7 linked regions of the Homo sapiens genome follow. The protein of the gene in region 7 interacts with the protein of the main gene of each other region in a biochemical or structural test. Each region holds a gene or a part of one and is shown on either strand. Other genes may lie near its edges.

Region 1 (4,273 bases), on a different chromosome or scaffold from region 7:
GTGGGCCATGGAGACACTCACCAGGCCCCAGGGTGCAGAGATGTCTGTCTGGGCTAGGGGGCCTCCAGCACTCCGGGCTGGAAGCGTGCTGTCTCCTGGAAGATGAGCTCCTTCAGCCGCTCCTTAGGTAGGTCATCCAGCTCCATGGCGAAGGTGAAGGGCTCCTCGGCCACTGGCTGGGGTGGTAGAGACAGCAAGGCTCAGGCCTGGCATGGGGGATGCCTACGTGCCCCCCTGCTCCCCTGCCCCCAGCCCCACTGCTGCTGGGGACTGGCCCACCTCATCCGTCGGGTCATAGTACTGCTCCAGGTAGGGGTGAGCCAGCGCTTCCTCCACTGTGATCCGTTTATTGGGGTTAAAGGTTAACATCCGGTCCAGCAGGTCAAGGGCTATGGAAGGGCAGGAGTCAGGGGTCACAGGGAAGACTGGAGGAGCTCCGAGAAGCATTGCTTTGCCTGTCTCCTCCAGCGGCTGCTGGGCTCACACACCCTCCACGACACCCAAGGTTTATCCCACACCCACCCTCATGTCTCTCGAACCTTTGGAGTCTGACTTGGGGAAAAGCTTGGCCCAAGCCACCTTGGTCTTGGAGGGCAGAGACTGTAGGTAGTTTCGGGCCTTCATGTTGATGATACAATTCAGGTCCTCCTGGGATGGGGAGCCCAGGATGCCTGTGGATAAGGAGGTGACTTGGTAAATGATCACCTCTTTCTTTCTGGGAACAGAATAGGCAACAAGGCAAGAACAAGACCCCCCAGCCCAGCAACCCATGCCAATCCCTCAGTCACCTCCTAGTCATTAGCATGGTGGTGCAGAGCAAGGGGGCTGGGTTCAGGCAGACCGAGGCTCAAATCCTAGGTCTGGTGCCTCCTCAGGTGTGGGACTTAGCCTTGCTTTTCCCATCTATCCAATGGGGATAATATCTATACCTCATTGAGATACCATGAGATGCTGGAGGCACCCCACACGTGGTGGTATCCCTGACTTGGACTCTCGAGAAATCTCACCTCGGAAAAGCTAATCATCCCCAACTCAGCCAGCCGGGCCTCCCTCACCCAGAATGTGGTTGAGCTGATCCAGGTAGTGCTTGCCAGGGAAGATGGGCCGGTTAGAGAGCATCTCAGCCAGAATGCAGCCCACAGACCAGATGTCGATGGACTTGGTATAGCCCTGGGGGAGAGGAGGAAGTGGTGAGCTCCTGGGCCAGCCTCAACAGGGTCCTGTTGTCTGCGCCAGGCCACCACCTCCAAGTTAGATCCAACACCAGGCAGAAGGCAGAGGCCTGGAGGGCTCAATGCTCAGCTTCCTTGCAGAGCCCAAGGCCCAGAGGGTAGAATTCCTGTGTCATGGGGGTCAGTGTCTGGCTCAGAGGTAGCTCCAGGGCTTCCTGGGAACTGGTCCGTTCCTTTCAGGAGTGGGCAGCCCCTCCTACCTTGGAGTTCAGCATGATCTCTGGGGCCCGGTACCAGCGCGTAGCCACATACTCCGTCAGGAAGCCGGTGTGGTCATGCTCAGGATCGGCAATCCGGGCCAGGCCGAAATCACAAATCTGGAATCAGACCTAGCTGCTAAGCTCGGCGCTCAAGGCCTCTGCAGCCTAAGCAGTCACGCCCCCTTGTCTTTGCCTCCACTGTTCCCTTTGCTTGCAATGTTCTCCTGCCCAAGGCTTCTTCTACTGGTCACTGGAAGCCCCAGACCCTGGGGGAGGAGGGGACAGGTGCCCAACCCTCTGACCTTAAGGTCGCAGGTGGTGTTGATGAGCAGGTTGGAGGGCTTTAGATCTCGGTGGAGCACGTTGGCGGAGTGGATGTACTTGAGGCCCCGCAGGATCTGGTAGAGGAAGTAGCAGATATGGTCATTGCTCAGCTGCTGGCTTTTCAGCAACTTGTACAGGTCAGTCTCCATCAGGTCCTGCACAATGTAGCTGAGGATGGTTCCGCAGACCCCCCCAGGCAGGGGGCAGTGGGAGGCACTTGGTTAAGGAAAACAGGCTCTGAAGGCGAGGCTGCACACCTCCTCCAGCCAGGGCCCCTGGGACTCAATAGATCTGCCAACCTGCACCACCAGCTGGGGAAGCTGCTGCCATTACCCAGCGGCAGGGCTCTGAGCCTCTGTTGCATCACAGTTGCTGATCCTGAGCAAGGGGCTTCATTTCTGAGGCCTCAGTTTCCCTACCGGGGAAACGGGGATAATAATAAACTGTGGGAGGCAGGAGAACTTCACAGTTAAGAGCAGCAACTTGGGCCAGGAGTGGTGGCTCACACCTGTAATCCCAGCACTTTGGGAGGCTGAGGCGGGAGGACTGCTTGAGGCCAGGAGTTTGAGACCACCAGCCTGGGCAACATGGCAAAACCCTGTCTCTACTAAAAATAGCAAAATTAACTGGGCACGGCGGCATGTGCCTGTAATCCCAGCTACTCAGGAGGCTGCAGCACGAGAATCACTTGAACCCAGGAGGCAGATGTTGCAGTGAGCCAAGATTGTGTCACTGCACTGCAGCCCGGATGACAGAGTGAGACTCTGTCTCAAAAATAAATAAATTAAAAAAAAAAAAAAACCTACAAAAAGAGCAGCAACTCTGGAGTTAACCCATGGATGTCTGAAATCTCCTCTCTACTACTCACTGGCTTTAGGATCTCAACCTGTCTGTGCCTCAACTTTCTCATCTGGTATGTAGGGGAAATAATGTTTTTTTGTTTGTTTGTTTGTTTTCTTTTTGTGGAGATGGGCTCTTGCTCTGTTGCCCAGGCAGGTCTTGAACTCATGGGTTCAAGTGTTCCTTCCACCTCGGCCTCCCAAAGTGCTGGAAATTACAGGTGCAAGCCATGAAATAATGGTTCTTTTGAGGGTGGTTGTGAAGACTAGATGAGATGGCGCATGTAAAGCTGTCAGCCCAGTGCTTGGCAAGTTGTGAGTGCTAGGCAAACATGAACTATTATTACTAATATGAATGCCTGAGTCACATGGCTGTTGAGGGAGTTAAATGAGATAATGTATGAACACCATCTGGCATGCAATAAATGTTTGCTTAAAAATAAATGCCTGCCTTATGGGAATGGTTTGTGCAAGAAAAATGAGGAGACACTCCCAACAGCACACTCCCACTCAAAGGAGAGTGCTTGGCCATACCTCAGAAGATGGAGGAGTAAAATGTCTTTTTCTATTTGAAGATACAAAAAAGCTTATGCGTAAATAAATAAATAAATCCACAAATGCTGTTTGGCTTGTCTCTAGAAAAATAAGTCAGGGCTGTCTTTTAGAATCTGCCTTGAGACCAGGCATGGTGGCTCATGCCTGTAATCCCAGCTCTTCAGGAGGCCAAGGTGGGTTGATGACCTGAGGTCAGGAGTTTGACGCCAGCCTGGTGAACAGGGCGAAACCCCGCATCTACTGAAAATACAAAAATTAGCCGGGCGTGGTGGCAGGCGCCTGTAGTCCCAGCTACTTGGAAGGCTGAGGCAGGAGAATAGCTTGAACCTGGGAGGTGGAGGTTGCCGTGAGCTGAGATTGAGCCACTGCACTCTAGCCTGGGCAACAGAGGGAGACTCCATCTAAAAACAAACAAACAAAAAACAAAGAAAACAAGAATCAGCCTTGAAAGGGTCTTCAGAGAATATGTGGACCAGCCCTGCTGTTTTAGGGCTGGGGAGGCCCAGCGAGACGCAGTGACTTGCTTCAGATCACACAGCGAGCTGGGGGTGAGCACGGAGATTTCCTGTCCACAGTTTGTGGTGGGGGTTGCAGACACCTCAGTACAAATCCCCACTCTTGGGTGGAGGGCTGGGACTGAGAGTGGGTGGGTGGGGCAGGGAAGAAGTGACAGGTGTCATAAGTTGCTAAGGAGAGCCAGACAGGAAGTGGACAGCAAACTAGGAAAGCAGTATTGGGGGAGGACAGCCAAGGCTAGGCTGTCCCTCCCTGGGCAAGGTGCAAGTCCACAGGTGATTAGGGTGTGGCTCTGAGTGAGAAGTCCTAAGAAGAAGGACAAGTTCCCATCTGGGGGAGGAGAGGAGGAGACAGCAACAGAAACACTTGATTTTAGGTTTTCTGAGCCTTAGCTTCCTCATCTTTTTTTTTTTTTTTTTTTTTGACAGGGTCACGCTCTGTCCCCCAGGCTAGAGTGCAGTAGCACAATCATAGCTCACTGCAGCCTCGAACTCCTAAGCTCAAGCCATCCTCCTGCCTCAGCCTCCCAAGTAGCTGGGACTATAGTCGTGTACCACCAAACCTGGATAATTTTTAAATTTTTTGTAGAGGTGGGGTCTCACTATGC
Region 2 (4,465 bases), on a different chromosome or scaffold from region 7:
ACAGTGAGATTTTTAGGTAGCTCAGTCACCACAGGAGTGTGCCTTCTCAGTTCAAAGGTAAATTCCAGTGAATGTAGCATCTAGTTAATTGGTCAATTAGGTACCATTGTGGGATGTGAATTACCAAATAGGTTTTATTCTTTAGAATAAGGTGTTTCTTTTCATCTCAATTTTGTAAATGATGTTATATTACATAGTCAGAAATATATATATTGGCAAAATTAGTTACCAGTATAAGCTTCAAAATGTCACTATTTTCACAAATTTTTTTTTTTTTTTTTTTTTTTGACATGGAGTCTCACTCTGTCGCCAGGCTGGAGTGCAGTGGCATGATCTTGGCTCACTGCAACCTCTGCCTCCCAGGTTCAAGTGATTCTCCTGCCTCAGCCTCCTGAGTAGCTGGGATTACAGGCGTTTGCCACCATGCCTAGCTAATTTTTGTATTTTTAGTAGAGACGAGGTTTCACCATGTTGGCCAGGATGGTCTCGATCTCTTGACCTCATTATCCCTCCACCTTGGCTTCCCAAAGTGCTGGGATTACAGGCGTGAGCCACTGAGCCCGGCCTAGTTAAATAAAATTTGATAAACACGATGGACTTGGTTGTGTGTTTTCTGGTTTTTCTGAGATCTAGTTTGAAAATTCTGACAACTAGCAAAGTATATGGAAGCTTCTTCAGGAAATAGTAAACATATTTCTTTTTACAGCCTAATAGTCCCAGTGAATATTGTTTTTATGTGGATAGTGATATGGTCAATGAATTCAAGTTGGAATTGGTAGAAAAACTTTTTGCTGAAGACACAGAAGCAAAGAACCCATTTTCTACTCAGGTATATGAACTTATTTGTTTTATATTAAATTTCATTAATTTTTAGTCTGAAGTGACTTTGAGTTTCACTTGTTTTTTATTTATAAGGTGTGGCCATTGTAAAAACTCATGTATTTGCTGTTTTAAAGGACACAGATTTAGACTTGGAGATGTTAGCTCCCTATATCCCAATGGATGATGACTTCCAGTTACGTTCCTTCGATCAGTTGTCACCATTAGAAAGCAGTTCCGCAAGCCCTGAAAGCGCAAGTCCTCAAAGCACAGTTACAGTATTCCAGCAGACTCAAATACAAGAACCTACTGCTAATGCCACCACTACCACTGCCACCACTGATGAATTAAAAACAGTGACAAAAGACCGTATGGAAGACATTAAAATATTGATTGCATCTCCATCTCCTACCCACATACATAAAGAAACTACTAGTGCCACATCATCACCATATAGAGATACTCAAAGTCGGACAGCCTCACCAAACAGAGCAGGAAAAGGAGTCATAGAACAGACAGAAAAATCTCATCCAAGAAGCCCTAACGTGTTATCTGTCGCTTTGAGTCAAAGGTATTTATATGTAACATTCAAGTTATAGTTCTTTTATTATTTTTGAGATAAATGTATGTGATAGTACATGATTTTTAAACTTATAGCAAACTTTCTGATATATATGCCCTAACGCAAATTCTTGAGAACTCAAAAAACTTTCTAAATTAACCTCATATATTTTTTCTTTTTCTTTCTTTTTTTTTTTTTTGAGACAGAGTCTCGCTTTGTCGCCCAGGCTGGAGTGCAATGGCATGGCACCATCTCAGCTCACGGCAACCTCTGCCTCCTGGGTGCAAGAGATTCTCCTGCCTCAGCCTCCCGAGTAGCTGGGATTACAGGCATGCACCACCACGCCCGGCTGATTTTTTTGGTATTTTTCATAGAGACAGGGTTTCTCCACGTTGGTCAGGCTGGTCTCAAACTCCCGACTTCAGGTGATCCGCCTGCCTCAGCCTCCGAAAGAGCTGGGATTACAGGTGTGAGCCACCATGCCCGCTCCTATTTTTTCTAAAATAATTATAAATTCTAAAATTACCTATCTAAATGGAGGAGGGTCTTCTGACACCTTTAAAATAAAATCCAGCTCAGTACTGTAAATGTGTTTACAGAACTTGTTTAAAGTTCTTACAGTTGTTTAAATCAGACTAGTTAACTACCCTCACTACTTAGATGCTTCCATTTCTTAGAGCTCTTTTTTAAGCTTATCTGAAGAAAAGCCCTTCCAATTTAAGGGTTATTTCCAATTGCACATTCCAAATTGAGCCTTCCATCTTCAGCATTCAATATAGATATTTACAGGCCCCTCTTTTAAAATTTTATTATAGTTAACTTGTATTAAAGTTGCTTTTATTTTTCATTACGTATTTGTAGAACATTAGCTATATATATATTGCAGGCTACATAGGTTTTCAAACTGTACAACAGGAATCTAAGCATGAATTGTTACTTCTATGGAGCTAGTTCAAACAAACATATGGACATGACCCAATTTTTAAGTTATACTTTCTGTATATAATTTGTAAGGGGATTTCACATATTTTAAGTTTGAGGCTATAGCTAGAAGAAATTAAGTTTTATCTAATAAGTGTGTGGAAAAGGGAAATGATTCCTTCTCTACTATGTCTAGACTAAGCCAGATATCAATAGCAATAGGAAAGAACCACTGTCGTAGCCAGAACACATAGCTTTTTTCCCTGCCTAACATTCCCACCTTGACCTAGAGTGCTGGGAGAGGTCTTTTCCCTAAGCTTGGAAAAGACATTGGGGCTTTAGATGAACTCAGAAGTACTTTACATTACTTTATTTACTGTGTCACTTACTCACTTTTGACTCTGAGCTCCACGAGGGCAATCACAGTGTCTTGGGCATTTTAGTGATACTAATACTTAGCTCATGACCTAATGTGTAGTACTTCCTCAATAAATGGTTGTTGAGGCAGGGCGCAGTGGCTCATCACTGTAATCTCAGCACTTTGGGAGGCTGAAGCGGGTGGATCACCTGAGGCCAAGAGTTTCAGACCAGCCTGGCCAACATGGTGAAACCCGGTCTACTAAAAATGCAAAAATTAGCTGGGCGTGGTGGCACGTGCCTGTAATCCCAGCTACTTTGGGAGGTTGAGGCAGGAGAATTGCTTGAACCCTGGAGGTGGAGGCTGCAGTGAGCCGAGATCGTGCCATTGCACTCCAGCCTGGGCGAGAAGAGTGAAACTCGGTTTCAAAAAAAAAAAAAAAAAAAAAAGTTGTTGGACTGACAGATGCATGAATACAGTAGTAAAAATGACAATCACTTATAAGTTACAGTTTACTATCAGCTACAGAGGATGGGATATCCAGTTTTCTGAACAACTGTTCTCTTGTACTTGTCAAAGCCAAAGTGTAACAACACATCAAGTCACTTTAGCAATTTATTTTTGAGACGGAGTTTTGCTCTTGTTGCCCAGGCTGGAGTGCAATGGCGTGATCTCGGATCTTGGCTCACCGCAACTGCCGCCTCGCTGGTTCAAGCAAATCTCGTGCCTCAGCCTCCCGAGTAGCTGGGATTACAGGCATGCACCACCACACCCAGCTAATTTTGTATTTTTAGTAGAGACAGTGTTTCTCCAGGTTGATCAGGCTGGTCTCAAACTCCCGACCTCAGGTGATCCACCTGCCTCAGCCTCCCAAAGTGCTGGGATGACAGTTGTGAGCCACTGTGCCCAGCTAGCAACTGTTTTTAAACATTAGTTCCAATGTAGTGTACACTGAAAACTTTTATGAAAGGAATTTCAAAAATTAAGATAAACCATTAAAAACGTAATTACTAAGTACTACTACTACTACAATGATATTTACATAATAGACTGAGTTACATTTCATAAAGACAATATATCTGTATAAGAATTTTTAAACTTCCCTGTCTATATAATAGAAGTTTTAGAGAAATTTTTTAAAAACCAAAGAAAACTGCAAAATAAGATCACTTACCTATTTGGCATTCTCAACTGTCTGGAACAGCAAGGAGCCATTATGATTATGCATTTGGTTTGTGGGGTGTCTTGAAAAGTCAAAATAATGTAACAAAGCTGATGTACTTTACTCATTAGAACAATTCTTCACAATTTAATATTAATTTTAGATATACATAGTTCATGTTTGATAACCAGATCAATACTGAGTGAAAAATAGCATAGTGGGAAGAGCAGGGGAGGGGAGGTAGGGATCTGGAGACCTAGAGTGTACTTCCATATTGCAACTAGTGAGCAGTAGGACTTTGAGAAAGTTACCCAATAGGCCTCAGGGTTCTAATTTATAAAATGGGTATGATATGCCTGCCTTATCTGTCTTGGGAACTTAAGTAAGGTTAAAATGAACTAATGAACTTGAAATGTTTTATAAACTGAAAATGCTATACGAATGTGAGATTGATCTTGTATTTCAATAGTCCCAACAATATCACTGCATTGTTATATTAGGTGGAATAAAAGGACAATATTTAACTGTTTTGACTCTACAATAGTGTCAATTTAGTTGTGTTCAGCTCTATTTTATAAAATAGGGATACGCATACTGTAGAAAATTTCCTGTTAAATTAAGCTTTGACGGCCAGGTGCTCACG
Region 3 (4,465 bases), on a different chromosome or scaffold from region 7:
AAACATAAAATAAGTAATTCCTTGAATATGACTGTTAAGCAGGGTTTGAAAAGAGGACTGACAAGCTACAATGTCCCATTCCTGGTTTTATTCATAGATTTGTGATGACTACAAGGAACAATCAGCCAAAAGTCTGCGAGAATCAAGCTTTACAGGCAAAATGACCTTACGGATACCAATGACCCCAAAACGGTATGAAAGTTTCAAGAAGACATCCTTTAAATGTAAATCTACAATCACACTTCATACTAGTTATTTTATATTAACAGGCAGTGAAGAGTCACTAACTTTACTTTTCCTTTGACAAGAAGCACAAGAGCCAGTGAAGAAGCCTAATGGTGACTTATATTGAATGAAAAATGGTCATTTTCCCCTATCAGGAAACCTATTAATTTTTACCTAGTCACAGGTAAAAACTATTAAGAGCCACATGTAAACGTTTTAGTAGTTTTGCTTTAAATGCACTTTAAAGCACACTTTTTTTTTTTTTTTTGAGACAGAGCGTCACTCTGTCACCCAGGCTGGAGTGCAGTGGCGCGATCTCGCCTCATTGCAAGCTCAGCCTCCAGGTTCACACCATTCTCCTGCCTCAGCCTCCCGAGTAGCTGGGACTACAGGCGCCTGCCACCATGCCTGGCTAATTTTTTTTTTTTTTTTGTATTTCTAGTAGAGACGGGGTTTCACCATGTTAGCCAGGATGATCTCGATCTCCTGATCTCATGATCCGCCTGCCTCGGCCTCCCAAAGTGCTGGGATTATAGGTGTGAGCCACCGCACCCAGCCTAAAGCACATTTTAAAGAATGGAAATAAAAATAAGAAAATAGATATTTTAATTTCCTTTAAAGAAAATGAAGTTTTAATTAATTTTCTTTAAAATAATAAAAGCATTTTCCTTTAAAGTGAGGAAATAGAAATGATTCACATCACTGCTATAAAAACTGAGAGAGCAGGAACAAATATCTTTACTAAGTAAATAATTACACAGGATTTTGGCCATAGTTTTGGAGTGAGAGATACACGTGAACCAGCAAACCATCTCTCCAAGGAGGATGAGGAAGATGCTTCGGGTCGATGAAGGGAAGGAGACAAATGGAAAGGTAAGAAGTGGGCAAGGGCAGGAGCCCCATACAGCAGACTGGTGGGAGTAGGGGAAAGACAGTGAGGTGGGAAAAGCAATCAGGGGCAGGAAGGAGGAAACCTCAGGAGCCGAACCCCATCTTGGTTTCATGCCAGTGCAGTCGCTCAGCCAGAAAGGCTGGCTGGGGTCACTGGGCTCCCATCACCAACGTCCAAGCTCTGCTTCTGCCGAAGTGGCTCCCAGGCTCCTTGCCTCTCCCTGAATTCTGCATATGCCCATCAAAGGGCCTCGCTGTGTCTCCAGCTAACTCTCCCTTTGCAGTGTTGGAAGACCTCTGGAAAAAACAGTTCCTCAACTTGTATTTTCAGCCCACCTAATTAATTCCTAAGAAAACCTGATTTGGGCAAAACTCTGGTGTTCCCACTTTTCCTCACTTGGAGCTGTCTTTCTGCTTTTGAAAGACACCTTTTCCTCCTCAAGCAAACTTTTAACCTTTCTGTGTGGTGATTTCAGAATGCTTCATTTGATATACATTTAATCTGGATGTTGTCAAGGTATGTTTCAGTAGACTTCAAAATTATTATAAATTACTGGCTTTTCAAACTTTTTTTAACTTTATTTTTCTTGACAGATGTGACATTTTTACTTTAGTTTCTCCCTCTTAAATGAAAAAACTGTTTGATTTCTAAAGTTTAAAGTTTGCCTTCCCCCAGCGGGATGCTGAATTTCATTGTGGCTTGATGGCTGTTATACCCACAGATCAAAGGATCCTACATCATAAAGTAACATTCTCAACTAATGGGATTTTAGATATTACCTACAAAGGTTTGTTTTTGTTTTTGCTACTGTTAACATTACTAAAAATAACATGCACCCAAACATAACAGAAGAAAAAGTAAACTACAGATTTTTCTTCAGTTGTTTTCTTGAGATTTCTGCTTACCTGGTACAGATCATTTCTCATGTTGATAATGTCATCAGAAATCAAACCAGATGTGACTTCTAGTAGATCCCTCACAAGTTGAGAATGAAGGTGGATGATTGCTAAGTGTAAGACACTGGAATGAAAACACAGTGGCAATAATTAACTAAAATGTTAATGAAAAAGAAAAGATTCCCAAGATGTGATTAGACTCAAGAATGGAATCTGCTCTCATACCTAGTTTTATTTGGCCCTAAAATGTTTTGAATCTATAAAATGCATTGAATCTGAGGTGGGATGCTGTCTCCAGAGGACTGGTCCCTCCCAACTGCCTACCCAAGGCTGCTACGTTATTTGTGGTACCTTCCTGGCCTCTGGGAGCATTCAGGTCTTGACCCCTTGATGTATAAACACACTGAGGCTTCCAGCCCAGAAAGACCTAAGCTTAAATCCCAATCCTGCCTCTATACCATGGCTTTGGGCGGTTTTCTTCTCTACCTTTCCCCCTGACTTTTCCTGACACACAGATTCTATGTAAAATGAATGCCTGGCACTAGGAATTGTTCAGAAAAACTTAGTTACCTCACTTAGCCCTGCTGCCCTCCTCCAAAATACAGTGTGGTGGTTTTTTAAAGATCTTTCCAGATCCCAAGAGTGGAGAATGGAGTGAAGCTTTTAACTACTGGAAGAAAATTCTTGCAGTAAACTTGTGAAGAAACAAAGTGATTGTATTTCCCACCACTCCTGCAAACATTCCAGCAAATATTCCCTCTGCCTGGAATGTTTTTGCTCCTTTCTTCTGCCTGAACAATGCCTACTCCATCCTTTATATTCCAGTTCAAACCTGACATCCTCAGAGAATACTTTCCTAACCTCCTAGGTGGAGCAAGTTGTCCCTCTCAAATTTACTGCTTGGTTATGCAACTGCAGTTTTCTACACATTTTTCTCGTTCTCTGTCCTGTCATCTCTGGGGCAGGTTCTGTCTGAGTCAGCCTTACAACCCTAGCATGCAGTAGAGGCACAAAAATAAGAATGATAGAAGGAACTTAAGAGCTTACGCTAATGAGGCTGAACATACTGGTGGTGTCAAAGTCACTCACAGGAGCGTAATTCTTTTAATTATTAAAAAACATACTATTAAAATTCAAAACAATAACAATAACAATCATTTTACCAGTGGCTACTATTTGTTGGGAGCTTTGATTTACCAGACTATGCTAAGCATTTGATATATATTGTCTTTTTACTATAACAATAATCCTATGAGTTAGGTAATATTATCTTCACTTTTCAGCTAATGAAACTGAGACTTGCAGGCGTCATATAACTCAGTCAAGGCCAATACGTGGTGAAGCTGGGATTCAAGCCCAGGCCTGTCTTACTCCAAAGCCATCTCTTAATCCCTTAAGCAATCCTGCATAGGGGATACATGTGCACTGTTCTAAAGACATTCAGATGAATGTCTAAGAAGATGACCACTCCAGAGCATGGACAGATTGAGGTGCAGAGCACACTAAAGCATCTCGCAGCAGCACTACATCTGGGACACGAGGTACAGGCTGGATCTTCTCTAAAATAAGCTATCAGGTGCCACTTTACTCAAGCCTCTTCCTTAGCAATAGCAAGTATATCGTACTTGGGATTAACTCCGGCACAGAAGAGCCTAAAAAACTAAATTGTGATTTTGCTACTTGAGAAATATTTTAAAACGGATGATCTCAGGGTTTCACTATTGCTTCTTGAAATGTGATACTGGAAGAAGACTTCTGAAAAGGGCCTAAACTCTGACATAGACATGATGCACATACACCAAGAAAAAGGTCATACTTCTAAAACTGCTCGAAAATTTCCATGTGCCGCTCAGCATTTCATAGCAGAAGTACATTCCCCCTCCCCCTCAAATCCTCACACCCTTATGGGAATTTCCCCAATAGCAGAAGTTTTATATATTTTTCTTTATTATATTTTCTATGATGACTAATGGCCACAGGATTTAAACTATTAGCCAAATATGACGAGCTGAATTAAAACAAGAGACTTGGGCTGTGATGGCCAAAAGCTGCCCTATACCTATGCTCTTATGAGGATCCTCTGGTCTCTCCAAGTCCCAAATCTGTGGCCTCTCTGAGAGCCGGCTTGTGTGAGTGTGCTTGGGTCTTAGGAGGGAACTTGCATGTGCCTCGCCTTGTATCCCTTCCAACAATCCTCCCTTCAGATATCAGCACTTCCTTTCTAACCTGTATGTGCTCATCTTCTTAGACTTATCAATTTAACAGGTCCCTGGAAATGCCACTTGAAACACTGCTGTACTGTCTTGGTTAACTGCTTTTTCTTGTGGTTGTATGCTACTGAATGCTAACTGGATTATTTAACCCTGAAAAAGAATTCTGCTGTTCATGGCTTTATACCAAGAAGGTTGTACTGGTTCCTCTCATACTGTATAACAAGGCCAGTGGTTATACC
Region 4 (3,743 bases), on a different chromosome or scaffold from region 7:
CATAATATGAGAAATATTTGCTTTGAAACATTAAGTATATATAACATTTAGATTGGAACTTGGCAACTTATGAGTTGCTCTAGCATTACTTGGTTAGGACTCTTCCATGGAGAAGACGTATGGCTAGCAGCTAAAGTTTTTGTGATTAATGTTTCTTGGAATTTGCAACATGACAACTTAAGTTTCTCTGCCTCATTGATTTCCTATATGAAAATTGGGAAATTTTAGTAATTTTCAGGGTATAGAAATATCAGACGTTTTATTTTAACCTGGAAACATATACTTTTAAGCTACTGTTTCAATGCTTTTTATATTTTTTTTATTTTGTACCCCTTACTACCTCCTGACCCTCACCCCAGTACTTCCCTCCCTCCCAGCACCCATGCGAGTCCCTCTATACTTCTATACATTAATTTTTCCCTATTTTAATTTTCTTTAGCGTTATCGAACTCCTTCCAGATCCAGATCAAGGGATCGTTTCAGACGTAGTGAGACTCCTCCACATTGGAGGCAAGAGATGCAGAGAGCTCAAAGAATGAGGGTATCAAGTGGTGAAAGATGGATCAAGGGGGATAAGTAAGATTTAACTATTATTATTTCAAATGTAATGATAAGTGTTTGCTTTTACTATTATACATAAAGTTATTGTCATTTTAGTTATTGCTGAATACCTTAAGAAAAGTAGAATATCATTTTAGCTAATAATATCTACAGTTCTTTTCCTAATAACATTTCCCCAATTCTTTTTCTTATTTTTTAGGAGTGAGTTGAATGAAATAAAAGAAAATCAGAGAAGTCCAGTTAGAGTAAAAGAGAGAAAAATAACAGATCACAGGAATGTATCTGAGAGTCCAAACAGAAAAAATGAAAAGGAGAAGAAAGTTAAAGACCATAAATCTAACAGCAAAGAGAGAGACATCAGAAGAAATTCAGAAAAAGATGACAAGTATAAAAACAAAGTGAAGAAAAGGGCCAAATCTAAAAGTAGGAGTAAGAGCAAAGAGAAATCAAAGAGTAAAGAAAGAGATTCAAAACATAATAGAAATGAAGAAAAGAGGATGAGGTCAAGGAGTAAAGGAAGGGATCATGAAAATGTTAAAGAAAAAGAAAAGCAGTCTGATTCTAAAGGAAAAGATCAGGAAAGGAGTAGAAGTAAAGAGAAGTCTAAACAGTTAGAATCAAAGAGTAATGAGCATGATCACAGTAAAAGTAAGGAAAAGGATAGACGCGCACAATCCAGGAGTAGAGAATGTGATATAACTAAAGGTAAACACAGTTATAATAGCAGAACAAGAGAACGAAGCAGAAGTAGGGACAGAAGCAGAAGAGTGCGATCAAGAACCCATGACAGAGATCGCAGCAGAAGCAAGGAGTACCATAGATACAGAGAACAGGAATACAGGAGAAGAGGACGGTCACGAAGCCGAGAGAGAAGAACACCACCAGGAAGATCAAGAAGTAAAGATAGGAGGAGAAGGAGGAGAGACTCACGGAGCTCAGAGAGAGAAGAAAGTCAAAGCAGAAACAAAGACAAATACAGAAACCAAGAGAGTAAGAGCTCACACAGAAAAGAAAATTCTGAGAGTGAGAAAAGAATGTACTCTAAAAGTCGTGATCATAATAGCTCAAATAACAGCAGGGAAAAAAAGGCTGATAGAGATCAAAGTCCCTTCTCAAAAATAAAACAAAGCAGTCAGGACAATGAATTAAAGTCCTCCATGTTGAAAAATAAGGAGGATGAGAAGATCAGATCCTCAGTGGAAAAAGAAAACCAAAAATCAAAAGGTCAAGAAAATGACCATGTACATGAAAAAAATAAAAAATTTGATCATGAATCAAGCCCTGGAACAGATGAAGACAAAAGCGGATGAGTGAGTTATATAAACTTACTTCCATTCTGTTTCGGATTTTAAGTTTGAGAGACTTGCTAATGAATCTCCTTTATGTTGTTTTCCTTTTCATTGTTTTTGGATTGTTTTATGTTTGTCCTTTTTTTTCTTAATGTGGATTTCATTGAGTTGATTTTTTGATAATCTGCAATCTGGATAATTTGTACTGCTAAAGTTTTAATAAACTCGACATGAGAAAAACACTTTGGTGTAGTACTGTGTGCTGTGTTTAACTATTTTATGTATGCATTACTGTGTTGCAACAATTAGCCAATAGCATCCTAATTTGTTTAGTCAGCCATTTGGAATGGTTGCAATGCATTGTTGCAAAAGCTTGTGTTTCTCATGATTAAAGTAACTTTAGAAGCCACTAGAAGACATCTTGTATAGATTTTCTGATTGCGTTATAAATAGAGGTTTGCAGCGGTTTCTTTTAATTACACAGAAGCAGGGTCCTAATAACCTGAGATCTTAAATCATCACTTTTGATTTTATAGTAATTTGTGCTTTAAAATAGATGTATTTATATTGCACTTCATACTCTATTCTTTATAGTTCGAGCCATAGCTTGTTTCCTATTAATGCTTTTCCTGTCTAGTTGTGTTTTACTTAACTGCCTATAAAAATCGTAAGAGTAATTTTTTTCAGTTGATGTACTGATTGAGCTTGAGTTGCTGTTATACAGCATTTGACAGGAACTATACCTTGGAAAATCAGATTGTGATTCTCAGTTCTGTGTTGCTTTTGGTTTGAAGAGTTTTGGGAACGTTTTAATTATTAATTACCCTTCTCTAAACTTTAAAAAAAAAAAAGCTTTTCTCATTAAAACATACCATTTGTGCAGGTCCTTAAGCTATACAGATTCTAAAAATTGTTAGTATTGAGACATTAACTTCTAAGATTTCTCTTTTTTGGCCTCCAACCTATATAGAATTGAGTGTTAACTCTGCATGGATTTTGTTTGTTTTAATTGAACTGACTTCTCTAACTCTCATAGCTGTGAGTTCCAAATGGCAAGAAAATGCATCTTTTCTATATATGTATCACGATAGGCTATAGCATGTTTATGACTCTGGTTTCTTTCTCTTCAGGTGGTTTTATACCATTACTGTTAATGTTATTTTAACTTGGCATGTATAACATTGCCATATAGAGTAGAGTAGAAAGTTGCAAATTTTGATAGTTTACAGAGTTAAACACTAAACATATCCAAAGTCCATTTAGAGTTTTGGGTGTTGTATTTTGCCATTTTTGTGATGTGTGGCCTTTTATTCTGTAATCTCTTCTAAATAAAACATTGAACATCCAGCAAACATAAAACCTGCCTCATTTGAAAAGGAATTTCAAAATTCCAATTAATAGGATTCTCTAGAGAGTTTTGTACTTTAATATTTGTCAGTGTAGTGTCAACTCTGTTACCAAGGTAGCTTCTTGGTAAATCCAGTAGCTACTCAATGCTATTTGTACTGAATAAAGCAATTATTAACATGATACTTCCCACTATTGATTAATGCAATATTGATATATTTGGCGTTGTGGTAGCTGTTGCAGAATGAATAGTGTAATGACCATAAGATTGCTTGGAAAATTGTAATACAGATATCCACAATGAATTCTTTCCAAAATTTTTTTTTCCGATGATAAAAGTAGTAGATGTTTATTATAAAATCCAAGGTGATTGATTCCTTAGAGACTGACCACAAACCCACATTAGGGATAATTGAGTCTGAGTGCCCAAGCTATATAACGTTATGTAGTTTAAGCAAGTTATTGTTTGTCTTAATTTCAGTTAACTGCATTTTAAAATTGTTGTTATAAACTATTTGAGCTTTAAGAAAGGTGCTATTTAAGAAA
Region 5 (4,465 bases), on a different chromosome or scaffold from region 7:
ACTTTTCATCCTAGCACTTTGGGAGGCTGTGGCAGGCAGATCACTTGAGGTCAGGAGTTCAAGACCAGCCTGGCCAACATGGTGAAACCCTGTCTCTACAAAAAAATAACAAAAATTAGCCAGACATGGTAGCGGGTGCCTGTAATCCCAGCTACTCGGGAGACTGAGGCAGGAGAATGGCTTGAACCTGGGAGGTGGAGGTTGCAGTGATCCGAGATTGCGCCACTGCACTCTAGCCTAGGCGACAGAGTGAAACTCCGTCTAAAAAAAAAAAAAAAAATTGCAGATTTATGAGTCCTTGTGGCCCAAACCAAAGTTTAAAAATAAGATGAGAGAATTATAGACCCAGAACAACCTGTAGCTTCCTTGTGAGAGGTTGGTTATGTATATAATAAAAATCCAAATTCTCATCTAATAGTTGAATCCTTATTAATAGAACTTTTTTTAAGGGTTTAGAAGCTTCTACTTTGATACCGATATTAATATATATCGGTATCCAATAGTTCTCAGCCATGTTGATGAACTGAGAAGTTCCATGAGTCACAGCCGTTTTATAAAGTACTGTACTTGACGGATGGCTGGTTCATCGTGGCCTCTGATAGACAAGGAAGGACAGAATGAGAGAGGAACCAGTGGATCTGCTTGATTTTATTCTTTATAAAATCAAGGATACTTCCAGAAAATACTGACTTCTCATTAAGAGATTTCTTATGACAAGCCTTAGGATAAAGATAGGGAATGCCAGTTTATCTCATTAGAATCTAGCGATTCAAAACAGCCACTCTCTGGGACATCATTATATTTATTGTCTCCTTTTCTGTACCTTTGAAACTTTCTCTGGTGAGAAGGTAAAAACAAGCCAGTCTTTCTTATTTTCTTTCACTCATTTCTGTATAAATGTGAGCTCCTCTGAAGCAGACATCTTTGAAATCCCCACACACTGCCAGATAATGATAGTTATCAATGAAATAGTTGCTGGTTCTTTGATGTACAATCAGCCAACCAGTATTTACAAGTCTTAATTCTCCTGTTCTTAAGCATAATTAAGGGAGGTGAAATGGGCAGAGCAAATGAAAGCACCATGAATAAATATAAGCCAAGAAATAGGTGGCTAATTCTGCTATCCTGTTGCTTACCTTACATTCTGATTGTATCGTTGGCAGACTCTGCGTGTGTCTCACCTACTTCCCTTTTTTTTCTGCCCAGCTTTCCCAGCCAGCTGTAAGCATTGAAGGACAGGTATCAAATCCTCCATCTACTAGTAGCACAGAAGTGAATTCTCAGGCCATTGCTGAGAAGCAGCCTTCCCAGGAAGTGAAGATGGAGGCCAAAATGGAAGTGGATCAACCAGAACCAGCAGATACTCAGCCGGAGGATATTTCAGAGGTGAGAGTAGGGCAATTACTGTTTGATTTGGTTAGGACCTCAGTATAGGAACCCAAGTTTTAAAAAATATTGCAGAAAAATATTTTGATAATTAGATCTCATGGCATAGATTTTGCATGAGAAAGGGTGTTCAGATTACTGATTCCCAACTAGATATCTTTGGAATACTAAAAATTCTTACGTTTTCTTTTAGTCTAAAGTGGAAGACTGTAAAATGGAATCTACCGAAACAGAAGAGAGAAGCACTGAGTTAAAAACTGAAATAAAAGAGGAGGAAGACCAGCCAAGTACTTCAGCTACCCAGTCATCTCCGGCTCCAGGACAGTCAAAGAAAAAGAGTGAGTCTCTGAAGCCATTCGTTCTGGAGGTAGCTGAAGAAACCAAAGACCCAGGGCAGAATTGCGGTCATGCCTCTTGGGCCTCAGAAGTTGCCATTATTGTGATTTCATTAACCTGGAAGCCCTGGGCCTGGTCTCTTCATTGTTACTAATAATTTTTCTTTCTTTTTTTTTTTTTTAATATTCACTTGCAGCAACCAATGAGTTAAGTCATTCCCCTCATTTCTTCAGGGTTCCCTGTGTTAGTACACCCTAAAAATTGTCTCATTTTTCAGGAGAGAGAAATGTTTGTAAATAGCCTTGACTAAAATGCAGGAAAGAATAGCAATAGTAATAGCATTTGTCATTCACCTGCTGTGTGCTAAGTATCCACATTGTCTCATTTAATAATTTCTTTCTTTCTTTTTCTTTTCTTTTTTGTTTGGAATCGGATTCTCACTTTTGTTGTTCAGGCTGGAGTGCAGTGGCGGGATCTGAGCTCACTGCAACCTCCACCTCCCAGGTTCAAGCGATTCTCCTGCCTCAGCCTCCCGAGTATCTGGGACTGCATGCGCATGCCACCATGCCCGTCTAATTTTTGTATTTTTAGTAGAGACAGGATTTCACCGTGTTGGCCAGGATGGTCTCGATCTCTTGACCTGGTGATCCACCCGCTTCGAGCTCCCAAAGTGCTGGGATTACAGGCATGAGCTACCACACCCGGCCTCATTTAATAATTTCACAACAGCTCTGAGGTTATTGGCCTGAAGCTTAGCAAAGTTAAGTAACTTTCCACAGGTTACTCAGCTGACCCTACTGCCTGGGCCAGGAAGCAGACCCAGGCAGTCTGAGGCAGAGTGCTCAAATCCAGCCATTCCAACAAGTGTTAATTGACTATTTTAGGACTAGAACTTTTGTGGCTCTAGTGATCTGCAAAAGGCACCAGGTAGGACATACCTGAGGAGTGAGTCTGCTGGCTCTTACAGATGATATATATTGAAAAGTGTTCCATTAATACAATGTGTTGTAAAATGTTGGGATTAAAAAATTATTTTCATTTTAAAAATAAGACTTGTATATATTGAGGTGTTTTAATATGGGCTGTAACAAACCCAGTCTTACTATTGGCAATCTCTCTTTAAAATGTGTGTTCCCTCATGCCTGTAATCCCACCGCTTTGGGAGGCCGAGCGGGCAGATCACTTGAGGTCAGGAGTTCAAGACCAGCCTGGCCAATATGGTGAAACTCTGTCTCTACTAAAAGTACAAAAGTTAGCCGGGTGTGGTGGCTCTCACCCGTAGTCCCATCTACTTGGGAGGCTGAGGCAGAAGAATCACTTGAACCCGGGAGATGGAAGGAGGTTGCAGTGAGCCAAGATGGCGCCACTGCACTCCAGCCTGAGTGACAGAGAGTAATTGTCTCAAACAAATAAATAAAATAAAATGTCTAATTTCACAAGTTTATTCAAATAGTCCTTATTTTTAGCACAGCTAAATATGAGTGACAAGCATCTTCGTAGTCTGGTTTCCCCCCACTCCATGGCAACCCCCCAGAGGTGAAAATTATCTGAAGTAACAAATATACTCTACCGATGATGAAATTTTTTTTGCCAATTAAGAAAAAATAAGGCCCTTGCTGAAATTGAAAGCTTTTTAAATCACTGGCTTCTCAAAGAACTGTTTGATTCCATTTGGGACACACCAACAAATTTTTCCGGACTTTTTGGGAAATATCATTGAGAACACATTTGAACTTAATTTGATCAACTAAGTCTATTATTTTAGCAATACCATTTTTGTTCTCTCTTCTTTTAAACTTAAACCTAACATTTGTCATTAAAATAGTACATGTCTCTTTTTCTTTGGCTCTAAAATACCAAGCATTTGAACGAAGGAGTCTTCTCTTCTGTGCCCCTGACTCCTTGTAGTATAAGACAATACCTGATCTAGTCTAGTTTCTGACTTGTTAAATACTGATGTCATGAAGAAAGACTTTTCTGTTCTTGCTTGACTGCATCTCCCTCTTAACACGAGTATCTTGTGCACTCTTTTTTTTTTTTTTTTTTTTTTTGAGATGGGGCCTCATTCTGTTGCCTAGGCTGGAGTGCAGTGGCGCCATCTCGGCTCACTGCAACATCTGCCTCCCGAGTTCAAGCAGTTCTCTTGCCTCAAGCCTCCTGAGTAGCTGAGACTAGCATGCCACCATGTCCGACTAATTTTTTATATTTTTAGTAGAGACGAGGTTTCACCATGTTGGCCAGGCTGAAACTTCTGACCTCAAAGTGATCTGCCCACCTCAGCCTCCACCGTGCCTGGTCCCATGGACTCTTATTTGGCAAAGTCTCTTCATAAATTTTTAGAAGCCTTTGGATTCTGCTTCTAATTGACCGAGTCTGTCTTCACTGACTTTGTGACTGAAAAGTTAAGCTGAGGGTGAAGAGTGTTTTAAGGTGATAAGACACAATGTTTTTTAGGAGCTGTCTGAAACAAAGCGGGGCTTAGAATCTAGAATCAGTGATTGAGCCTGTAGTGATATTTCCATGGGGACAGAGTGGTTAATTTTGTTATTGATTCTTGAGATGCTTTTAGAGCTTCAGGCTGAATGATTTTTTAAAGTTCTTCTGCTTAATTGGTAACTAATTTCAAATGCACTTTTTTTTTTTAAGTTTTCAAACCAGAAGAACTACGACAGGCACTGATGCCAACTTTGGAGGCACTTTACCGTCAGGATCCAGAATCCCTTCCCTTTCGTCAACCTGTGGA
Region 6 (3,435 bases), on a different chromosome or scaffold from region 7:
TAGAAACACTGTCTGGTCCCTGAAACACACATGCATGCCCCCTTCCTTCTCTCTTCTCCCCCAGACCCAGGGCAGAAAGCATGAACTACAACCTTCTTCAAACACATAACCAATTTAGAGAACAGCTTCTCAAGGAGGCTATGGCAGATTCATGAATAAGGTTAAAATGTCAAAGATCTCTGAACCATAATCTAGAAAAGTAAGCTTCAATATCCAAGTTAATTCTTACTTTGAATTTTTGTACTTTTCTCTTATTGACTGTTGTGCATGCTGTGGTGCTTTGAGGTAGGTCTGGTGAAGGTCCATGAGACAAGGCTTAAGACTTTCCAGGGTATATCCAGTCTTTCGTATTAATGATTCAGGCTACAGAGAAGGGAATAGAGAACCCCTGAGTTTTGCTTTTAGTAACACACCAAACACAGTAAATAGTTGGCATTAAGCTTATGTTAAATTCCAGTACTAATCTTTAACTTTTCCAACTACTAGTTTTCTCAGGCCATTATTCCATCCCTCGATCCATTTTCTACTACTTTCCCTGCCAGCAACAGGTCAGATGCTTTTAAAAAAGCTCACCTTTCAATCCAAGTTACAACTAAGCTTACTACCTAACAAACACTGTTCAACAGGTAACATGCCTTAAACAGTATATAATCATCCCTCAGTGTACATGAGGGATTGGTTCCAGGACCCTTCCCAAATATACCCAAATCTGTACATATTCAAGTCCTGCAGTCACCCTTCCATATATATGGGTTGTGAATCCCCTGAATACTGTAGTTTCAGTCCACATTTGATTGGAAAAAAATCCATGTGTAAGTGGACTCACACAGTTCAAACCTGTGTTTTTCAAAGGTCAACTATATATATTTGAAGTTTTTCCAAGTAAGAACATCTAGGCAACCCTCAGTTTTGTAGGACAATTATTATTTAATCTGGCACAGGCATTTCAGTCACAAGATAGGTGTGTGAAGACCGTAATACATACCCAGCTTTGTCCCGTGACTGTGTAGAGTGCTAAATGAAAGGCAGCTCCAGCAATAACTGATGGCAAATACTTGAGGTATGGGTCAGCATCTATCAAACTTAATTCTCCCAAAAACTGGAATAAAAAATACTTTATGATCACAAGAGCGTTTAGAATTCAAATGTCAAACCTCTGCCTTCTAACCTAATTTTTTCCTGCCTTTGATAACGGCTCTGTAGCAACTCTAGAAAAAATATCTCACAGCCTCATCTTTAAACATATCAATCATTTTAGTGTTTTGTTCCATCCTCATCCTGTATTTTCCCTCCTTTATTAACTTTTAAAAAACAACTCTTCTGACTACCCATCCCCAAGATGTCATCCTTAGACCTCTGCTTCTAGTGCTTTCCTGATATAGATTATCTTTTGCCAGCAGTAGGCTTTCTTCCATACTGCAGCATTAATCTCCCTCTGAATACTAAATCTCTTCACCACTGCTGTACAAAGGAACTAGGTTCCTTTACAAAGGAATTAGGGCTTACCCCTAATTATTACCAAAGAATCACCATTCAACAAAATGAAAGTTAACTCACCATTGCTAAACTTTCAACTTTGCAGTTTGCAGGCTGCTGATGCAGAAAGTATTGGGTAAGAAACTGATTTACTGTTGGAGCAGCTAAGTCAAAAGTAAGGACTTTCAAAACTAGATGCTCCATTCTCAGAACTTGTTTCTTGGTGTAGGTATCATCTGTAATGTACACAAACTCTGCTACTTCTGGGGGGTATATTTCTTCAAACTTTCTACAATGAAAAAAGTTTTAAGTAATCAGTCCTAAAAGAGAAGCAAGCTTCCTTATCCCAGTTCTGAAATCCCATTAGCAGAATATGGAATGAATCCAAAATCCACACCAACTGCATTTCCAGACACTTGATCATCATTTCTAGTAGAGACTGGATAGCTAATTGCTAATTAAAAGGCCCAAATCAATAAAGGACTTTTGAGATATTTTCCCCAGTTCAGTCAAAGGAAGTAAATGAAAGGCATGAGACTTCTCGAGATGGGAACAATGCCAGAGTTCACCAAGTAGCTGAAAATTTAGGAAATACAAGTCTTAGGAAAACATGTTTCATGTTTTCATTTTTAAATTTAGTTTTTCTTTCTTTTTTTTTTTTTTTTTTGAGACAAGAGTCTTGCTCTGTCGCCCAGGCCAGAGTGCAGTGGTGCAATCTTAGCTCGCTGCAACTTCCACCTCCTGGGTTCAAGCGATTCTCTTGCCTCAGCCTCCCTAGTAGCTGAGATTACAGGCATGCATCACCATGCCCAGCTAATTTTTGTATTTTTAGTAGAGACAGGGTTTCGCCATGATGGCCAGGCTGGTCTCAAACTCCTGACCTCAAGTGATCCGCCCACCTCGGCCTCCCAAAGTGCTGGGATTACAGGCGCGAGCCACCGCACCCAGCCTTTACTTCTTAATAAAAGAGACACTGCTTATATGCCAGAAAGTAATATTGGAAGGAAAATGTTTTAAAATTTGTAACCTAGTGTACTATATCATGTTCAAGGAATCCAGTTGGGGGAAAATTAGTGTTCTAGATTAGAACAGTTTCATCCTCCTCCACTGCCCTAAGCCCCAGCACATTGCCATCCCTAAAGTAGTCACTGACTCTGCCTGGTGTATGTTAAAAGGTCACCATTAAAAAAATCAATTTCTTCCCTAGACAAAAGGTCGTGATCACTTTTAAACAAACCAAGGTAGACTTACGAGGCTAACAGCATAGCAGCAGTGCCCACAAGCTGAAGTTTTCCTCTCAGCACTGACATGGAAGACAGGAACCTATCAATGTAGTTCACAGCCAAATGCAGGGTCTCATTCTGTAGTTTATATTCTTCTCCTACTTCAACTAACCAGTCCACGAGGATAGCTCTCATACTGTTAGTGATGTCTGGCTGTTTCTTCATGTAACCCACTTTAGGTTTACATTTAACCTATTGAGAAAATTATTTATAGTGTTAAAATTATTCTAGTGTAAAAACTGCAATTAGATTATTTTACCATTAATTACGAGAGGCTACATGCTATAAACTTAACTGTAGCATTAGAATAATTCATTAGTTTAAAAATTTAAACATTATCCTCTCAATTTCATTTAGCCACATTTAACAAATACATTATACAAACTGGATTCAGAGAACCTTTACCTCCATTTCCCTAAGGTATGTGTGAATATCCTCATGGTAGTCTGGTACTTCATTAACACTCACTGGCTTTTCATCTTCTAATATAATTGACATGTCCATAGTATGTGGTGACTCTGGGACAATTCAAAAGATATGATTAAATTAATTGTTTGCCTATTTAGTTTAATAGCTAAAAATGACTGCCATGGAAGGAATCTCATATTAACAAAGCACTTATTTCTTCAAACTAAAAAGAGCTTCTCATGACAAAATATGTAGAATATTTTACCCT
Region 7 (3,851 bases):
GGTCCTTTCTCCACAGATGTAATTATGTTTTCAACTCAGGAACTATGGCAAGGAACTTTCCCCAGATCAAATTCTATTAACGCTGAGATACAAGTCATCCATGCACAGCCACTATCATACCCTTTATTCTCACTGAAAGGCAGAACTCAGAACCTGTTATTTTATGTCTGTAATCATGTACTTTGGCATCTTTTGGAGGAAAGGGGCAGGATAACTCACTGGAATGTACAGTATTTTGCTAGTGCATTTCAAGGAATGGAATCTTCTCCAGTATGAAATTACCAGATATAAAATAATGTAATGATGCTGAGGATATAAGCTTTTAGAAGGTAATTTGATGGTATTTCTTTCTCGAATGAAAAGCTGCTGGTTTACCCTCAACCCTATTCATTAGCATTACCATGAGTGAATTTATATCTAATTATTTCCACTTGCCCTGTTCTCTTCACACCAAGGAAGCTCCAGATCCAGTATCTTGTTTGGCCTCAAAACAGAAGCAGCTTCTTTTGTCTCCCAGCAGTAGTGAGCCACTCAGTCTCTTCCACAGGAAGTTTGGAGCCTACATTCCTTGAGTCAGGAGCTTATTACAGAAAAACCCCGTTTCCCTGAACTTTTGGCTAACAGAAATTAATTTAACTGACATGCATATTGATTCTGAAATTTTTTTCCTAAGTTTTTTTCATTTTTTTGAATGAGTTTTTTAAATTTTTTAGATGACCAAAACTTGCAGGGCAGGGGATGCCCAGAAGAGTGGTGAGATAGTAAAACACTTATTCCCTCATCCTTTCAGGTTTTCAGGTTGCCCATTTATATTCATTTACATGTCATTTGACTGTCTCACTTTTTACCCAGAACAGTAACAACCCACACCGTCTTCCTTCAGGGATTTCCAACTGGCACTCTGTGGGTGCTACACAGAATGCAATTTAATGGATATTTCTCAGCCTGGTTCAGAATAAATTGATCCTTTGATCCCAGAAAGTATATACTGAAGTGTGGGATAAAGATTATGATTAGGGGAGGGTTGGAGACAAAAGCTGTAAATTACTATGGCTGATTTATTTCTACTATATACATATATATTTTTTGCTTTTGTATATCCTATATAGGAAACTAAGCATTGTATTTTTTTTAACAAATCTAAAAAAGCACTATGAACTACAGGTGTTTGACTTTCAAAATATATTTTGTATTGTTAATATCTTCACATTGTGTGAATACTGGAAGCTGCAGATCTTTGCTAGGACGCAATAAATTTATATACTTTTTGAGGGGTTCTTCTGGGGTGCTAATCAGGCCCCTGTTATGCTTAGGGGGAGCCCTGGTGCTACTTGCTTGAAGTTTTCAGTGTAAGTACCCTGATGCCTTTTGGACCTTGGGATCAGATCAAGAGTTTTGGAGATCAGGTACCAAGGAAATAAGGACAGTCTAGCTGCCTCAAGTGAGGGGCCCTTTGCATAGCTCTCCTTCCCCCTCACTGAAGCTGGGTAGCCTATTGGGGTTGAGAGGGAAAATGTGAAATCTCAGAATTTATCTCCCTTAGAAGAGAGCCAGTAACTTATGTACAAGGATGAAAGAAAGGTCGCAGCAGTAGCTTTGGGGAAAGGGAGGAAGATATGGCACTTCTCCAACCCCGGAAAACATTGCTTTTGAAAACTGCTGATAAAATATGAGCCGGTTATTACTTCTGTTTGGGAGACTGTGCTCTCTGTGGTGCCTCTCTTGGCTCTACTCCACAGATACCAGACCTCTTCTAAGAGGATGAGCAGACCAGCTTTGAGGTTGACCTGTTTCTCTTTGTCTGCCTTCCCAAAACACCAGCCCCCAGGAAGACATTAAGCAGCCTTAAGCTTAAATTCCTACTCCCTCTTCCAAATTTGGCTCACTTGCCTTAGATCCAAGGCAGGGAAAGGAAAAGAAGGGGGGTCTCTGGCTTTATTACTCCCCTAAGTCTTTACTCTGACTTCCCCAAACCCAGAAAGATTTTCTCCACAGTGTTCATTTGAAAGAGGAGTATTTTGTCCCATTTTCCCCTTCCTCATTATCAAACAGCCCCAGTCTTCCTTGTCTCTGCTAAGAAAGTAGAGGCATGATGATCTGCCTCTCAACTGCCCTAAGTCCTAGCTAAGTATCAGGGGAAAAAAAAAAAAAAAAAGCCTAACAAATGGGATTAGACTAGGGCTGCAAGTAGTGAGGATTTTGTTGATACCTCTGCTGGGATGTGTGCTTTCCCATATCTTGCCTTCAGGAATTACACTGTGCCTTTTCCCCAGGGATATGGGCTCTGTCTACCCAGTGCTCCAGTTTCCCGGTAACTGCTCTTGAACATTGTGGACAAGGGCAGGTCTTCATATTTTTGATCATCCCTTTCTCCCAGTGAAATCCCATAGCCCTTACCTAGAGTCTAGGGCACAAAGACTTCGGGGAAGATACACTGAGATTGACCTGAGGAGACATCTACACACACCAGTGGCAGCTGCCCCAGGGCCTGCTTCCCCTTCCTAAGTCTGTCATCCTCTGGAAGGGATGGGTGGTGCTCCAATCTCTGGTGCCTAAAAACCCAAGTTTATTTCTCTCTTAACACTGGCAATAACCAGTCCACACCACTGTTGCCTTTTAAAACCTCTTAATAATCTCATGCTGTGTTTGTTTTGATTCCAATCCAATTATCACCAGGGCTGTGTGGGTAAATGCTTTTAAATGCTCTCTCATCTTGTTCTTCCCCCTCACCCCCCACTCTTAGGTATGTATGATGCTAATCTTGTCCCTAAGTAAGTTTCTTCCTGCTCCTTTTGTATCTTCCTTTCTTGTCTTTCCTCCTACCTTTTGTCTCTTGGTGTTTTGGGACTTTTTTTTTTTTTTTTTTGGCCTTTTGTACAAAGATTAGTTTCAATGTAGTCTGTAGCCTCCTTTGTAAACCAATTAAAAAGTTTTTTAATAAAAAACCATGTCTCTGGTGTATTGAAGAGGGTTGGGAATGGTGAGAGTGTACGTTTGTAACTTCATACTCTGAACCTAACAAAGGTTTCCAGCTACACTGTGTTGTGCTCCATACATGTTAATTAGTGCAATTGCCCTATATTTAACTCCCGGGTAAATGGTTTCATGACCAGATCAATGTGCCACAACTACACGGAAATGTGGAGGACCAAGACAAACAGGCAACACTAACTTTATTTTTTTTCTCATATGCTTTTTTATTTTGGAATAATTTTAGATTTACAGAAAAGTTGTAAAGCTAGAACAGAGTTTCCATATAATCCTTACCCGTTTCCCTCATTGTTAACATATTACCATGGTACATTGTCAAAATTAAGAAACTGACATCGTGGCCAGGTGTGGTGGCTCACGCTTGTAATCCCAGCACTTTGGGAGGCTGAGGTGGGTGGATCACGAGGTCAGGAGATCGAGACCATCCTGGCTAACACGGTGAAACTGTCTACTAAAAATACAAAAAATTAGATGGGCGTGGTGGCGGGCATCTGTAGTCCCAGCTACTTGGGAGCTGAGGCTGGAGAATGGCGTGAACCCGGGAGGCGGAGCTTGCAGTAAGCCGAGATTTCACCACTGCACTCTAGCCTGGGCGACAGAGCAAGACTCCGTCTCAAAAAAAAAAAAGGTTTGTCTCTTCTCCCTCATTTGTTTAGTCAATTTATATTAGTATGTATTAATGTGTATTTATTTTATACATGGATTATAATCCATTACTATTTTGTTGCTCAGATTTTCCCAGCTACAGTCATTGTTATCTTTTGTCAGCCTATAAGCATGTTCTGGCTGGGCGCGGTGTCTCACCCCTGTAATCCCAGCACTTTGGGAGGCTTAGCTGGGTGGATCACTTGAGGTCAGGA

The links.
Region 1: of the proteins of SP1 (region 7) and MAPK3, one has a biochemical effect on the other in vitro, tested with the Homo sapiens proteins (2 studies listed by BioGRID).
Region 2: the proteins of SP1 (region 7) and HIF1A form a complex in vitro, tested with the Homo sapiens proteins (2 studies listed by BioGRID).
Region 3: the proteins of SP1 (region 7) and NFKB1 form a complex in vitro, tested with the Homo sapiens proteins (one study listed by BioGRID).
Region 4: the proteins of SP1 (region 7) and PPIG form a complex in vitro, tested with the Homo sapiens proteins (one large-scale study listed by BioGRID).
Region 5: the proteins of SP1 (region 7) and EP300 form a complex in vitro, tested with the Homo sapiens proteins (4 studies listed by BioGRID, with this or other methods).
Region 6: the proteins of SP1 (region 7) and CCNA2 form a complex in vitro, tested with the Homo sapiens proteins (2 studies listed by BioGRID).

Annotation. Positions count from the first base shown.
Region 1 is NC_000016.10:30,116,615-30,120,887, forward strand, and holds part of MAPK3 (mitogen-activated protein kinase 3), read right to left. Parts: intron 1,925-4,273; coding exon 1,735-1,924; intron 1,550-1,734; coding exon 1,433-1,549; intron 1,171-1,432; coding exon 1,056-1,170; intron 672-1,055; coding exon 540-671; intron 390-539; coding exon 280-389; coding exon of another isoform or gene 223-279; intron 177-222; coding exon 54-176; 3' UTR 22-53; intron 1-21.
Region 2 is NC_000014.9:61,739,799-61,744,263, forward strand, and holds part of HIF1A (hypoxia-inducible factor 1-alpha), read left to right. Parts: intron 1-706; coding exon 707-829; intron 830-956; coding exon 957-1,390; intron 1,391-4,465.
Region 3 is NC_000004.12:102,598,567-102,603,031, reverse strand, and holds part of NFKB1 (nuclear factor NF-kappa-B p105 subunit), read right to left. Parts: exon of another isoform or gene 3,297-4,465; intron 2,138-3,296; coding exon 2,023-2,137; intron 1,388-2,022; exon of another isoform or gene 1,001-1,387; intron 518-1,000; exon of another isoform or gene 46-517; intron 1-45.
Region 4 is NC_000002.12:169,635,653-169,639,395, forward strand, and holds part of PPIG (peptidyl-prolyl cis-trans isomerase G), read left to right. Parts: intron 1-439; coding exon 440-576; intron 577-760; coding exon 761-1,871; 3' UTR 1,872-3,743. UniProt on the Homo sapiens protein: PPIase that catalyzes the cis-trans isomerization of proline imidic peptide bonds in oligopeptides and may therefore assist protein folding. May be implicated in the folding, transport, and assembly of proteins.
Region 5 is NC_000022.11:41,150,627-41,155,091, forward strand, and holds part of EP300 (histone acetyltransferase p300), read left to right. Parts: intron 1-1,206; coding exon 1,207-1,386; intron 1,387-1,579; coding exon 1,580-1,724; intron 1,725-4,368; coding exon 4,369-4,465. UniProt on the Homo sapiens protein: Functions as a histone acetyltransferase and regulates transcription via chromatin remodeling. Acetylates all four core histones in nucleosomes. Histone acetylation gives an epigenetic tag for transcriptional activation.
Region 6 is NC_000004.12:121,817,815-121,821,249, forward strand, and holds part of CCNA2 (cyclin-A2), read right to left. Parts: intron 3,278-3,435; coding exon 3,165-3,277; intron 2,952-3,164; coding exon 2,728-2,951; intron 1,766-2,727; coding exon 1,558-1,765; intron 1,100-1,557; coding exon 986-1,099; intron 364-985; coding exon 230-363; intron 1-229. UniProt on the Homo sapiens protein: Cyclin which controls both the G1/S and the G2/M transition phases of the cell cycle. Functions through the formation of specific serine/threonine protein kinase holoenzyme complexes with the cyclin-dependent protein kinases CDK1 or CDK2.
Region 7 is NC_000012.12:53,413,502-53,417,352, forward strand, and holds the end of SP1 (transcription factor Sp1), read left to right. Parts: 3' UTR 1-2,945; downstream 2,946-3,851. UniProt on the Homo sapiens protein: Transcription factor that can activate or repress transcription in response to physiological and pathological stimuli.